Homo sapiens: one gene and its partner. The protein of the gene in region 2 purifies or fractionates together with the protein of the main gene of each other region. This does not show direct contact. Each region holds a gene or a part of one and is shown on either strand. Other genes may lie near its edges.

Region 1 (7,034 bases), on a different chromosome or scaffold from region 2:
AGCCAGAGAAAATGGTTCGTCAACAACCTCATCAAATGTATTCTTTTAGTTTACAGTAAGAATTCCCTGTTCCTCTATGGCAGCCTTGTATTCTAACTTTCATACCTTCTCGTTGCTTCGTACTTTGTCTTTAGTCAATCCAAACCATCCCATGCACACTCCGCCTTCAAGTGTCACCTTTCCCTTGTAGTCATTCATGCTTATTCCAGCCATGGCTCATCTGTTTCCAAAAAAAAATGTGATTTTTTTCTAGTATGATATCAAATTGTTTTATTGCATTTAAGCTTTCCTCTGCAGCTACACTGTAGGCATGATTAGAGTGAGGTTTGCAAAGATTACCTCATTCCTCATCTCTGGCAGTGAATAGCACAGTACAGACTGGATATTAGGCACCTGATATACATTGGTCAATTAGTATTTCAGATCTCCAGAAAGCAAGCTCAGCATAGTATTTAAAGGCTAAGTCTTATTTAAGTCTTATTTCTTAAGTCATATCTTTGATTAAAAACACATTTGAGGGAAAAATTTAAGGCCTACTAAATTAACACAATATTTTTTCCTAACCCAAAACAGCATGTATACAAATGATTGAATACTGGTTCCTTATTGTTGAATAGCATACATAAAAGTTTAACTCTAGGTCTCTTTTTTTACAGAGTGTAAATTGTCCTGTGAATCACTTTTGACCATTAGCAGTTATAAACCACCATCATATCACTGCTTTTTTCAAATACAAGTTGATAATGGTGATAAATTGAACATCTTTTAGTTTTAATTTATAATTTTGTGGAACTTAAGAAGGCACTAGAAATTAGTCCACATTTCCTATTTTGTTCCCATCAACTGAACATCACTGGACATTGTTTAAATTAGCTGGAGGAATTTGGCCAGATGTTGACACATAATGGTTTCTGTGACCCAGGAACTACCTGCAACATTATCCCCTAAGTTCAAAACTTTTGTGATCTCTTCTGAGTTTTGGAAAATTCCATTGCCTTTAATTGCATTGCTTGTCATGTAAGAAACAAAATCTATGTACACAATAACTTTTTACATTGATGCTAAAATATAGTGTCATCTTTATGAAGACTTATTAAGAGATAATTAGTAATCCAAATATAAATTAAGCTTCAACTTTGTGAAGGGTTACCTTTGTGAATAAATCAACTACAGCGAGATGCCAGTAGACTGGAATATAGAAAGTAGATAATTCTCATTTGCGTATATGTCCATCTCTTTGACAAACTCATACTTGGATATAAGTTTTTGAAGGATGGGGACTTCTCTACCGTTTTATCCCACAGAGCCTAGTAACAATGGCTAACATCTATGGTTGTAGAGGTTGTATACTACAAAAGGTTGAAGTCAAAGTATTAAAAGGAATAAAATCTAGTCTATGTCTACTCTGAAGTTAAGCTCTAAAGGGTCTGTATCTACCCAAATGAGAGACTTCTAATAATCTCCCAGAATATATTGAGGAGAATTACATATGATTCTGCTACAGTAGTAACTGGCATATAATAGGAGCTCAGGCAACACTTACGATTGATAAATGAAGAAATTGCTTTTATGAATTGCTAAGCTCACCTGTGTGCAACAAATAGCACCTACATATGAAGAACCCCATGCATGATAGCTGTCGAGTTCATCTGGCATTAAGTACCTTAATTTCAGGCATGTTTTTATTGAAAAAATGTGACATAAAACCATATCTTAGAATTGAAGAAACAGTGTTTTTGTCTTGCATAAAAATTTTTATACATTGTTTCCTCATTTATTTCTCCTGTTTATCCGATGCCAAAGGCAAAACCAAAACAGAAAGTATGAGAAGTGATTTCGAGTGGACCAGGACCTTATGGCGTGGCAGAAAGACAGCCACAGGACTACTTAGGTATATTATAAAGATAGAAAAGACATGTTGAGAGTGACTCTATGAGGCCAGCCTATACCTAATTTCTTACTCTTGTACTGTAATTTTTTTCTTAAGAAATTAGATGTAGGCTGGCATTACAGAGCTGCTCCTTGTGTGTTTATTAATTGATTATTTGTATCTGGACTTTCTCCACTTTCCTGTTATTGCTGTTTCTCAATGATTTTGTTTTGCTTTGGCTTTCTGTGATTAAGACATCAGCTCCACTCGCAAATAGCTTTTCAACTCGAGTGCCAATCACAGTCTCTGTATCTGTTAACCTTATTGAGAAAGGAGAAAAAGGGTCTGTTGGGCTCTGGCTCAGCTCTCTGTGAATGTCCCACAGCTGGCTAACTAGACAGGCAGGGAAAGAACCAGGCACAGACTCAGTGGAATGCCGAGTGGCCACATTGTCTGTCAGCCGTGCCATGTACCAGGAAAGGGGCTTTATGCAGGGCAGGTAGTAAACCTTTGTACTAAGATCACTTTTTCCATCACTACTCTCTATCTTTTTTCATGTTAAATGTGATTGTTTTCATGTTTTATAAATCACCTCTTAGGAAATAGTGGTATTCTCTTAGGAGATTTTAGTCTAGGGTATGTGGATAGAAATAAGGTCTGTGAACTTGGATTGGGGGAAAACTTTATCTTTATTTGTATTCAATTAAAACCAAAAGTAAGCAGTTTTTTCAGTTAAAATGTGAGCAACAAACTCCAGCAATAGAGATACCCATGACTTTGTCACTAATAGAAATGACAGATACTTTTATAACGTGTTCCAGACATTGTACATACTTAAAAATACCAGTTATGCTCGTCATCACTACATTGAAATTATCCTAAAGACCTGATGCTAGATCTTGTTAATTAACATATTAGGAAATAAAACATGTATTACTACATCACAAATATTTAAAAAATGTGTTGCACATTGTATTTCAGTATAATTGTTTTCATTTAAAATCCTATGTATTTTGTTTTATGCATTTAAAAGCATTATTATGAGAATGGGTTTTTAAGCTTCAACAGATGCCAAAAAGATCCATGGCACTAAAAGGCTAAAAAAATCCCTGCTGCAGAAATACAGTAGCACCATACTGTAGAATTTTCTAAGGGCAGTTTCTTATTTGTGGATGGATTTTCAAATATCTGCCTTTAGCCACTACATGTATAAATTAAATAAATATAAATATATTTAGTTGAACAATATGTATGTTTATTAAATATTTATAATGAAAAATAAGACATGAATTATGCTTATGTACATATATATGTTCATAGTTACCCAACAATGAAGCTTCAGTATATATGGTATGGTTTTCATGATTCATTAATACATAGTTATAGGTTTAAAACCTTGCAGAATCATAGTAACCATACAGAAAGCCGTTTCATAAGCATTAAATCTTAAGACTACAAGACATTACTTGAAGGTCAATGCTCTCCTTTTCACAGGCTACTCAAAAAGAGATTGAGAAACAGAAGGTGCACCTGAAGAGTATCACAGAGGTAGGAGAGGCCTTGAAAACAGTTTTGGGCAAGAAGGAGACGTTGGTGGAAGATAAACTCAGTCTTCTGAATAGTAACTGGATAGCTGTCACCTCCCGAGCAGAAGAGTGGTTAAATCTTTTGTTGGTAAGAGAAAAGGCTAGAAGCTTTTACACCCTTCTCTGTCACGAGAAAAAGATACATAAGTGACCAGTAACAATTCTGTGTTTGAAAATTTCTCAATTCTACGTATATGCTGGCTCTTAATTCAATATCTATAACAATATTTTAATATATTTTTCTTTATATTTACGCAATATTCTATATGAAAATACCACTTAAAACTAATCTCAATGAAACTTTATTGTTGTCTTTTAAACATTTTAGAACATAGGAAAAATTCTTTAAGAATATTGTCTAACCAATAATGCCATGGTATGTCTCTGTACAATTAAGGAATACCAGAAACACATGGAAACTTTTGACCAGAATGTGGACCACATCACAAAGTGGATCATTCAGGCTGACACACTTTTGGATGAATCAGAGAAAAAGAAACCCCAGCAAAAAGAAGACGTGCTTAAGGTAGCAAATAAAATATGAAAAGTAATGTCCAAATTGTACACCAGTTACTTCAATCATCTTTGTCCTAAAAGATACTAAGGACGTCTTAATAAGAGTAAAACAATCCTTTCTTCCTTCCTTTATCTTTCCCTTTTTCCTTCCTTCCCCCTTTGAATGGAAATGAATGATTTTGAAGAGTTCTGTAATCTGACTTTCTGTTCAAATCCATCACTCAGTTAATTATACCCAATGTAAACTCCGTTCAGAAAGATATTCCAAGATTTATTTTGAAATCATATTGCAAATTTCTGCCTTTGTCAATGGTGGTACTACATTCTTGTGTCTAACACAAAGAACAATCTGACACTATCATTCATTTAGCCCATCTGAATGAACACCTGAAATCCAGTCAGCTGATTTTTTTGCCTATGCCATATCCAAATCTTGGTAATTAGTCTTAATGTTGGGCTTATGTAAAGCTGAGGTTTTCATTTTTAACTACATGTAAACTAGGCTTTGGGTTCTTTCTTTTAGTCTCAAAACTGACTGTTAGGATGCCCTGTCTTCTTTTTCAAGGGGAACTTAATCTTTTCTTTAAAAAATGATTCCGATAAAAGGGTATGAGAGGTGTAATACGCAAATATACCTTATAGACACTACATTGTTTCTATTTGATGATGTCTCTTTTCCCAATTAAATAGGTAGAGTTGAATTTTAACAGCTCTCTTTTCAATAAACATTTTTTATTTTGTTTTGCTGCAATGTTTGATAAATTTATTGATTAGTTGTTTACTATTTAAAGAAAACTCAAAAATTATGTTTCTTTCTATGCAATTTATTTTTATGCCTCTGATATTTTCCACAGATTACGATATACCTTTAATGAAAAACTATAAATTCATTCCAGGCTATCCCCAAAACACATTTATGCCATTGTCTGAAGCTTATTTTGATGTGGATCTGTATTGTGCTCTTCATTATCCCTTGATGTATAGTCAGAGATGTCATCTTATGGTGAATTTCCTTCAAGGCTTTTTGAATAATAGGGTCTGAGTTATTTAACTTCAACCTCTGTGACCCGGCAGGTCAGGAAGAACATTCCTCAGTACCTCTGTATGTGACAGAAAATTCGTATGTGTTAGAAAATCACTTTTTTTCTTATGACACTCAATGTAATAAAGAGGAACTTGAAAGTGCTAGGAAGGAATAGAAAAGTGTTCTTCAGCTACCTGACCTCCTGAGCACATACTTAGTTCATTCCACAACTATTAAATTCAGTAACGATATAATAAAATAAGACTAAATAGAATATATTATGATAGTTGCAACAACATAGTTGGGAAAACATCCCTGTCCTTCCTCGGACTAAATAAACATTTTAAATAGACATGCATCAAACTTAAGGACGGTGATCTATTTTTCTGAAATCACACGCATTTTCATTTTAGTCCTGTTTTATGGAAGTTGTGGTTTTATCTCCCTTTGTATTTTCTGCATGTGCTTGCTCTCATTTTCTTACTTTCTCTCTCTCTCTTTCTCACTCTTCTCGCTCACTTGCTCACTCGCTCTGTTTGGCTCTCTTTTTCTATCTTGACCTTCATTAATTACTAACTTCAAGTCCTATCTCTTGCTCATGGAATATAGCGTTTAAAGGCAGAACTGAATGACATACGCCCAAAGGTGGACTCTACACGTGACCAAGCAGCAAACTTGATGGCAAACCGCGGTGACCACTGCAGGAAATTAGTAGAGCCCCAAATCTCAGAGCTCAACCATCGATTTGCAGCCATTTCACACAGAATTAAGACTGGAAAGGTAGGAAGATCTACTCCAAGGTGGAAACTTGTGCTAAATGGTCTCTTGCGAAGGTTGCGCAGTACTCTGAAAGGGGCAAGTAGACCCCACAGCAAGGTTTTCAAAAGGAAAATGAATGCCAAAATGTATTTAAGGAAATTTTACCACTGATTATAATGGGAGATAAACGCCACTCCTCCCCGTCTCTGTCTCTCTCTGTCTCTCTCTGTCTCTTTTTCTCTCTCATCTTTTGCTGCCATAGATATTCTAGGACTGCATTCTATGCTGCAGTTTACATACGTACTTTCAGGGGTCACCTACAGAAAAAAATAACAAATAGCATGCTGAAGGCCAAAAAAATAAATAAAACCAAAAGCACACAAGTCATCCATCAACATAAAGCACTACCGATAAATTTTGCCAAAAGCAGTACTGATACAATATTGCTTGTATGTAATGTGGATCAAATATCCAAAATGAGGTCTTGTACATCTTCTGCACGGTCTAGGGTGTTTTTTTACCTCTTTACTGGTTGTGCAAGTGTGTTTGTTTAACTTGCTTTTGCTAGTTGTAGACACTGTGACAAAATTCATTAGGCTATAATGAAATGATCACGCCATGAAAACAAATCATTGCAAAGCTTACATATCCTAATTTTTGTAATTTTATATGCCTATTTATATTACTGTTTAAGAAGAACCAGGGAATATGGAACTTTTGCGTGATAGACTTTATATTTGTGTATGATTTGATGAAGAGAAAGTCTTATTTAATAAGTAGTTTGCAAAAATGTATAAATATAGTGTTATAGAATTTCAGCTCTTTGGGAAGATTTGAAATGCAAGTAATTACCTAGAAATTTATATACTGTAGTTTGATAAATTTCAATATATATGATATGCTTTCAAACATAAAAATGTATATAAAATCAATATATGTATTTAGGTATATAGATAATTGTTAGAAATAATCTGAAATGAAAAAAACATTGGAGTATTTATGAGAAAATATGATGCAGTATGTCAGGTAAGTATTGATTCCTGGAAAAATAGAACATTTTCAAAAAATATTTTGATAGATATAAGCAACCAGTAATAGCATGGTTTCACAATTGCTGCACTTTCTAAGGCATTACAGTGTCTCATCATGTTATATAATAGTACATATTTAAAGTAGTTTTCAAAATAAGTGAAATGTGACATGATAAATTCTAAATAGTTTAGCTTGTATGCATGAGACACAGTTACCCTTCAAAATTCACCTTCCCAAATTAAAAAGT
Region 2 (7,034 bases):
CTCTCACCTCAAAAAAACCAAGAAGAAAAGGATCTCTGCTGACAAAGCCAGGGGGGTATCTTTATCTCAGGGGCCCAGATGTGGGAGAAGGCAGAAGTCAAAGCCCATATGGACCACCCATGGAGCGTTTCATCCGAGGTTAAGAACTGCCCATCCTTTGTTCCGATGCTCAGGTAAAAGGAATTGTTACTGCTAGGCCAGCTCTCTATGGGAGGTGAGGCTGATTGCCAATTTCCATGGTGTAAATACTCCTGCAATGGCCAATTTCAAGCTATTATACCAATAGTGGAGCTGGGGACTCTGCTCTGCTCTGAAGTATAGGAGCAGGGAGCCTGTGTCCCCACACCAGGTCCTGAGCCAGCTGGCCTGCCCCAAGCTGCTTCCCTAAACCCACGGTCCATCTCCAGGGAGGGTGTTTCCTTCCCTCCCTGCAGCTGGCATGGTGACTCAGCTTCCCCTAAATTTAGGAAAAGGGGTGGAGGACAGAGACAGCTGCCCAGGCTCCTCTCCTCCTCGCTGAGCTCCCACCACCCTGTCAGCTGAGGGGCTGGCACAAGGTCCACCCAAATCCACAGTCTCTGGTCCACCCCTGTCTGGGCTCCACCTCCAGAATAAAGTCACCCAACAGGTTTTCCTGCCAAGTTCAGCCACCCTTGTGGAATGGGCATAGGCTTAGACCAGTGGGAAGGGAACCTCGCAGCTGTCTCTCCCAACATGGCCCCAGACATGCTGTCATTTCTTGCCTTTGTCTCCCCAAAAGCTCTTCTGAGTGTCCCACTTTCCTCTCTCCCAAAAGAGAAGCCCACTCTCTGATAGGAAAAGGAGCTTTGTCTCTCAGCACCTACTTCCCATACAGGGCTGGTCCTCAGCAAAGACTAACAGGAAAACTGACTTAGAAGGGGAACCTTGGCCTCCCCGCCCCAGCAGATAGAGCCTAAGGGCTTGAGGATACCCTCTCGGACTCTTTCATGGCCTCTAGGAGCGGGACCTAAGAGGGAATTTGAGTCTACAAAGGCCTCCCTCCAGCCTTCTCCACGTCTCCCCCAAGGAACTAAAGTCTGAGGACAGACAGCACGACAGGCAATTGCAGAGTCTCCTCTGTGTCTAGAAAGTCTGTACTCCAACCCCAAAGTCACCACCTCCTGGAAGCTTTCCCTGACTGCCCTAGGTGGTAAGCTTTGCTTTCCCAGGCTCTGGGATCTTGGTCCCACCTCTGTCACCGTACACATTACTCTCTAATGAAATCATCTGTCTGTGTATCTGTCCGCTCACTAGACTGTAAATTTCTTGAGGGCAGGAATTGCTTGACATTGAACTTTGAAACTTGGTGTCTGGCTTGGTGCCTATCAGACAATGAATGCAGGAAGGGATAACTGGCTAGCATATAGGCTCCTGAGAGCCTCCTCCCACCAGTGAAAGCAACATCTGCTTAGGGGTCATGGCTGGACCTGCACCTCCCCCCAGCAAGACCAAATAAGGAAGGGGTAGAAGGAGTCAGGACTGAATACCTCTTACCTGCTACCCTGTGGGCCACCAGCCCTTCTAAATTCAATGGCTCCTCCTCTGGAGTCCGGGAGGGGTCTGAAGTCGCTTCCTTTGGTGAGAGCAGAGGCTGAGCAGTGAGGCCAGGGAGAGAGGCTGGGGGTTGCTGAGGCCCTGGAGGGCTGTGGGTGGTCGGAAGGAAGGCAGGCAAGGAGGAAGAGGCTGGGCTCTTTGAATGGAAATCCTGGTTAGGCCCAGCCAAACATGGCTGATAGTCATAAGGTGAGTAAGACCTGCCAGGAGGGACAGACTCCAGAGAGGCCCGTGGGGCTGGCTCAGGGGTTCCCAACGAATGCCCACTGGGGATATAGCCAGATCTGGACTGGGTCAGTGGATGGGACTGACGGGAGGATCCAGAGAGGGGCTGGGAGGAGAGTGGAGAAGCCCCTGGCCAGGCCCCGGGGACACTCTGGGACTTGTGTAGTGGGGCAGCAGCGGAGGCTGGCTCCAGGTCCAGCATCAGCATATTGAGTGTTTCGATGGACTGTTCAATCTCCTGCTGGGAGGCTGCTCGCGGGAACTCAGGGAGACTGGGGATGGGGGTCTCTGCCAATGGCTGAGGGCTGGGCCTGCTGGCTACAAGACTCTCCAAGTGGGCTCTTTCCTGCTGGCGTGGAGGTGGGCGAGGCTGCTGCTGCTGCTGCTGCTGCTGCTGCCACGAATTCAGTCCCCTTTGCACAGCCTCCCGGCTGCTTCCCCCTCGGACCGGAGCTGGGGGCAGCTGGGGTTCAGCTTCCGAAAAGGATTGAGAGCGGAACATACCGCTGGGGTCATGGGCATAGTGGGAGGTGGTCACTGGCTGTGGCCAGGCTGGGTGGGGCCCCTCCCTCTGGTAGCCAGCTAAACCCTCCTGTGCAGAGTAGGAGGGCCGCATGGGGGCCGTGTGGCCAGCATGGGCAGGCCCCGCCCGGCTGGCAGACTCGTAGGGGTAGCCTCCTCCATTGACCATAGGCTCCATGGGGTAGGACTTGTCCAGACCGTTGGTCAGTGGGGACAGGGCCTCTGGGTAGCCCCCCTCACTGGTGTTGGTGACCCCGTCCAGAGAAGAGAGTGTGCCCATGCTGCCCGCACTGTGACCATCCTGGTTTGGCAATTCATCGTCCAGGATGTCTGTCTCCCGCTCAGATGCTAACGCCCCACCATTGACATGAACCTGGGCTGGGACAACGTGGCGTCCAGAGGAGGGCACAGCCGAGCCCCCTGCTGGGCGGGACCTGAGGTGCTGGGTGTGGTACATGGCGCCTTGCTTCTCTCGCTCTAAGCCAAAGCCACTCAGCAGGCGGTCCAGCTCCCGCTTCTCCTGGGGACTCAAGGCAGCAGTGGCACTGGAGGCCCCGGGGACAGGCTCGTCGGTCTTGTCGGTCTTGGTGGAGGCTGTGGAGTTGCCCGAGTCGCTGCTCACAGAAAGCGTGTGTTCCACGTGGTTGGGGGTGGCCGACAGTGTAGGACGTGTGGCATTAACAGCCCCGGTGCTGCCGTGCAGGGAGTCTTTCTTCTTCACCTTAGCATACAGGCTCCCATCTAGTGGCCCCTGCGTGTGTCCCACCACCTCTGCAAGGGACAGAGCCGGAGGGGAGACAACAGACAACAGACATTAGCGGGAGGCAGGGGTATCATCCACTCTGCCAGAGAAAGAAGCTAAGAGCTCCCATGCCCTGCATCCTAAAACCTCCTCTCACCACCCTGAGGTGGGGAAAAGGGGAGCTGACAGAAAGACCTCTACCCCAGGCTTTGGGGCAGAGCCTCACCAACACTCAGCTTCAGGGCCGGGCAGTGGAGCCCAACACTGAGCAGGAAGTGCTGGGGGCAAATCGCTCCAGTCCCAAGCCTAGCTCTGGCATTTCACCAGCTTCCTGACCAGAGGCATGAATAACTCTCTGAGCCAGCCTCCTGGTCCATAAAATGGGGATAATAATAGAATCTGGTTGAACCATCTGAAATTGCCAATATTCATTAAATACACTGTGCTTTGAGTTTAAATGAGTTGACACATGACATGCTGAGACCAGTTCCTGGCACGTGATGGGAGTTCAACAGCTGGGAGCCCTAACCATCACCATTATGAGTATCATTAATTCCTGAATGACCATTTCCAAAGCATCCTCAGTCCCCTCCGCCACCCCATCTCAAAAAGTCTCACCCCTGCTTCGATGTCTGGAGTTCCCACTCTGGATTAGAGGCAGAATGCCAGGAGAGTAGCCATTGCCTTGAATGCCCATAGAGGTATCAGCATGGACGGCCAGTCGCCCCGAGGATAGCCTTTGCCCACGGAAGCAGGGGGAGAACCCAGGAGGGCAGTAGGGTGCAGCAAAGGGCCCCACCATGCCCAAGGTGGTGGTGGCAGGGAGGCTGAAGGCAGAGCTGGGACTCTCTAAGACAAGCTTGCCCTCAGCTAGATTTGTCTCCAGCTCAATGCAAAGGATGTGATAGAACCATTCAGAGATACAATGTCATTCATGCTGCCCACTGCCACATTTCCAGAGGCTCCTCCCAGCTCCTCCCCAGCACTGCCCACTCCTGATGGACCCCTACCCCTCCACCAGCAAGCTCAGCCCATACCACTCAAGACTCCAGGAAAGGGACGCGGGTCCTGGGAAGGTATGCCGGGCAGGATCACAGCAGGTCTGCAAAGACGAGCATCCTGATCCCACTGCTCTGAGCCAGCCCGGGGGCCCCTGAAGAACAGGCCAAGGTGGGGCTCAGCCAAGCCAACAGTCCCTGTGCCAGAGGGGACACGCTTTTCCTATGCTGGAGGATGGGGGGCATATAGGGTGCTGATGCAGGGGGTTCAGGGACTAGGGCAGGAGGGGAAGCGTCTTAGGGATCGTGAACACAAAAACAAGATGTCTTCATGGGGGAGAGGGTCCTCTTGTCTGCAGACAGCTCTGAGGACCCCCCTGAGCAACACTTTCTCTGGAAGGAAAAAGTGAGCGCTGGGTGGCTCGGGGCCAAAGGGCTGACTCAGGAATGAAGAACTTCCCCGCCCAGAGGAACTCAGTGATTTCACACCCTGTACAGTCAGCAGCCCAGCCACCAGCCCCGACAGACACACACACACACACACACACACACACACACACACACACACGCACGCACGCACCTCCCCTTACTCTAATCCAGGCTCTCCGTTAGCAAGGAAAAAAGCCAGCTCCCAAAGACTGCACCAGCTCCAGCCAGACACCAGCAGTCACACACCGAGCCAGACAAAAAGACAGTAAGAGATCACCCAAATCAGAAACACCCAGGCATGAGCACACACTAGGTGCCACACAATGCCAAGAACCACAGTCAGACAGCACCGGCATGAACATGTACACACAAATACCAACAACAGTGACCACCGTGCAGTGAGCACAGCGCAAACGCCAACACTTCGCCAGGCACTCTACACGCACATCCTCTCTAGCCATCGCCTCCGAGCCAGACAGTATTACACCCATCACAGTAAGGGAGAAACTGAGCCTCTGAGAGGGGAAACCATTTATGTGCCAACAATGCTACCTGATAAAGCCAAGATTTAAAATCAGAGCTAATTTCCTTCAAACAGTATGTAATTTTTATTATGCTACACCTCCCTCATATCACAAACACACACACACACACATACACACAAATTAGAATAAACACATAACAGGCAGGAATACCCCCAAATAAATACTTAAAGCCACAAATATTTCAGAAAATACAAATGTTCCTACCATGCCCAAGGATCAGCCCTTAGGCCAGAAGTGGCAGCCTCTAAAAATAAACACTCTGACAGAAGCCCATGGCCAAAAACAAGTGATCAGACAACCACAAAACAGGAACATCCCAATCAACATACACACACACAGACCACAGGCCAGCCATGTTACAACACAGAGAACTGGCACAAAGATGCTCCACCAGGCACTTGCATCCCTCTACACACACACACACACACACACACACACACACACCCCAGGGACTGGATGCCCTCCTCATTTACTGACCTCTCCAGATCCACCCCTCTGCCCCCAGTTTTCCCCAAGGCTTTGGGACCTCAGCCAACACCAGCCCCAGACAACACAGGACCAAAGTATTGCAGCAGCCCAGGGCCCAGGGCCCAGGGCTGGTCTGAACTGAAAAGGGGTTTTGGCTAAAATACATTCTGAATCTCCACCAACCTGGCCCTGTGCCTAGACCCCTAAAGGCTGCTAAGATGCAGGACCAGGCACAGCTGCCTCTTCCAACCCCCTATTATCATCGTAAAGGGGTCCTCTCCCTGTAGGATGAGGGAGGCTGACCTTCATGCCCACTCTCTCCAAAGAACTGAGCTCCTTGCTACACATAAAAGAAGAGACCTCAGCCTGGCATGGTGACTCATGCCTGTAATCCCAGCACTCTGGGAGGCTGAGGCAGGTGGATCACCTGAGGTCAGGAGTTGAAGACCAGCCTGGCCAAAATGGTGAAACCCCACCTCTACTAAAAATACAAAAAATTAGCCAGGCGTGGTAGCACATGCCTGTAATCCCAGCTACTCGGGAGGCTGAGGCAGAAGAATCACTTGAACCTGGGAGGCAGAGGTTGCAGTGAGCCGAGATCGCACCATTGCACTCCAGCCTGGGTGACAGAGCAAGACTCCATCTCAAAAAAAAAGAAGAGACCCCAGCCGCCTGTTTCTAGGGGGCAAAGCACTGAAGACAGGAGCCTCTGATGCACTCATAGCTCTGGGGTGGTTCTCTTGAGGATGGGGCCCCTTGGACAAGTTGGCCGAAATCTGAAGAGCTGGCTTTCCTTCTCACTGTCCCTAGAAAGCTGCAGGCCCCCTCCTGAGCCAGGGCACCCCCTCTGCCACCTACACTGTGAGGTGCCAGAATTTCCCTCCTGGGCCAGTGATCCCCTCCATCCTTTGTGCCTCCTCATCCCCCACGTTCATGCTCATGTGGTCTGAGAAGTGGGGAGCTGCAAAGCAAAGGCTGGTGTGTCCAGTGGCTTCCCCACTTAGACATGTTCCACAGTGAGAGCCATGGGGGCAAATTCAAATCAGAAAGCACATAGGCCCCTGCAGCATCTCAGTCATGACTAACAGAAAAACTATGAAGGCATCCCCCAGGCAGGAGAGAGAATTGACTACCTGATATCTCAGCCCTTCCTTGCCCCTGTGGCCAAGCCCCACTCAGCATCGATTTTGAAAATGTCAATGTTAAACTTGTTCTGTCATGTAATCTATCCCCAAGTGGGCTCCTGTTTGCAGCAACAACATCAGGAACAATCATAGCCAAGCCACTAAGGCATAGTAAGAAAATCGAACAGATGCAAATTGTTTAATTAACTCCTGTTCGCTAACTACAAATGGAAATGTCTCTTGGCCCCAGATTGCACCCTCCAGGCCACTCAGCACCTTTGCTGAGTTGTCCTCTTCCTATCCAAGGGAGGTTTTGAGAATACCCAGGCTGATCCCAGGCCTGTCCAGCCCTGATGAGGACTCTGCTGAAACCCCAGCATAGCAGCAGGATCTGTGGAGCACGTGC

What was found.
Region 1: the proteins of TNS1 (region 2) and DMD purify together in Homo sapiens (co-immunoprecipitation; 2 studies listed by BioGRID and IntAct, with this or other methods). This does not show direct contact.

What each region holds. Positions count from the first base shown.
Region 1 is NC_000023.11:32,361,530-32,368,563, reverse strand, and holds part of DMD (dystrophin), read left to right. Parts: intron 1-3,364; coding exon 3,365-3,544; intron 3,545-3,853; coding exon 3,854-3,982; intron 3,983-5,605; coding exon 5,606-5,776; intron 5,777-7,034. UniProt on the Homo sapiens protein: Anchors the extracellular matrix to the cytoskeleton via F-actin. Ligand for dystroglycan.
Region 2 is NC_000002.12:217,845,995-217,853,028, forward strand, and holds part of TNS1 (tensin-1), read right to left. Parts: intron 4,195-7,034; exon of another isoform or gene 3,867-4,194; coding exon of another isoform or gene 3,683-3,866; intron 3,094-3,682; coding exon 1,516-3,093; intron 1-1,515.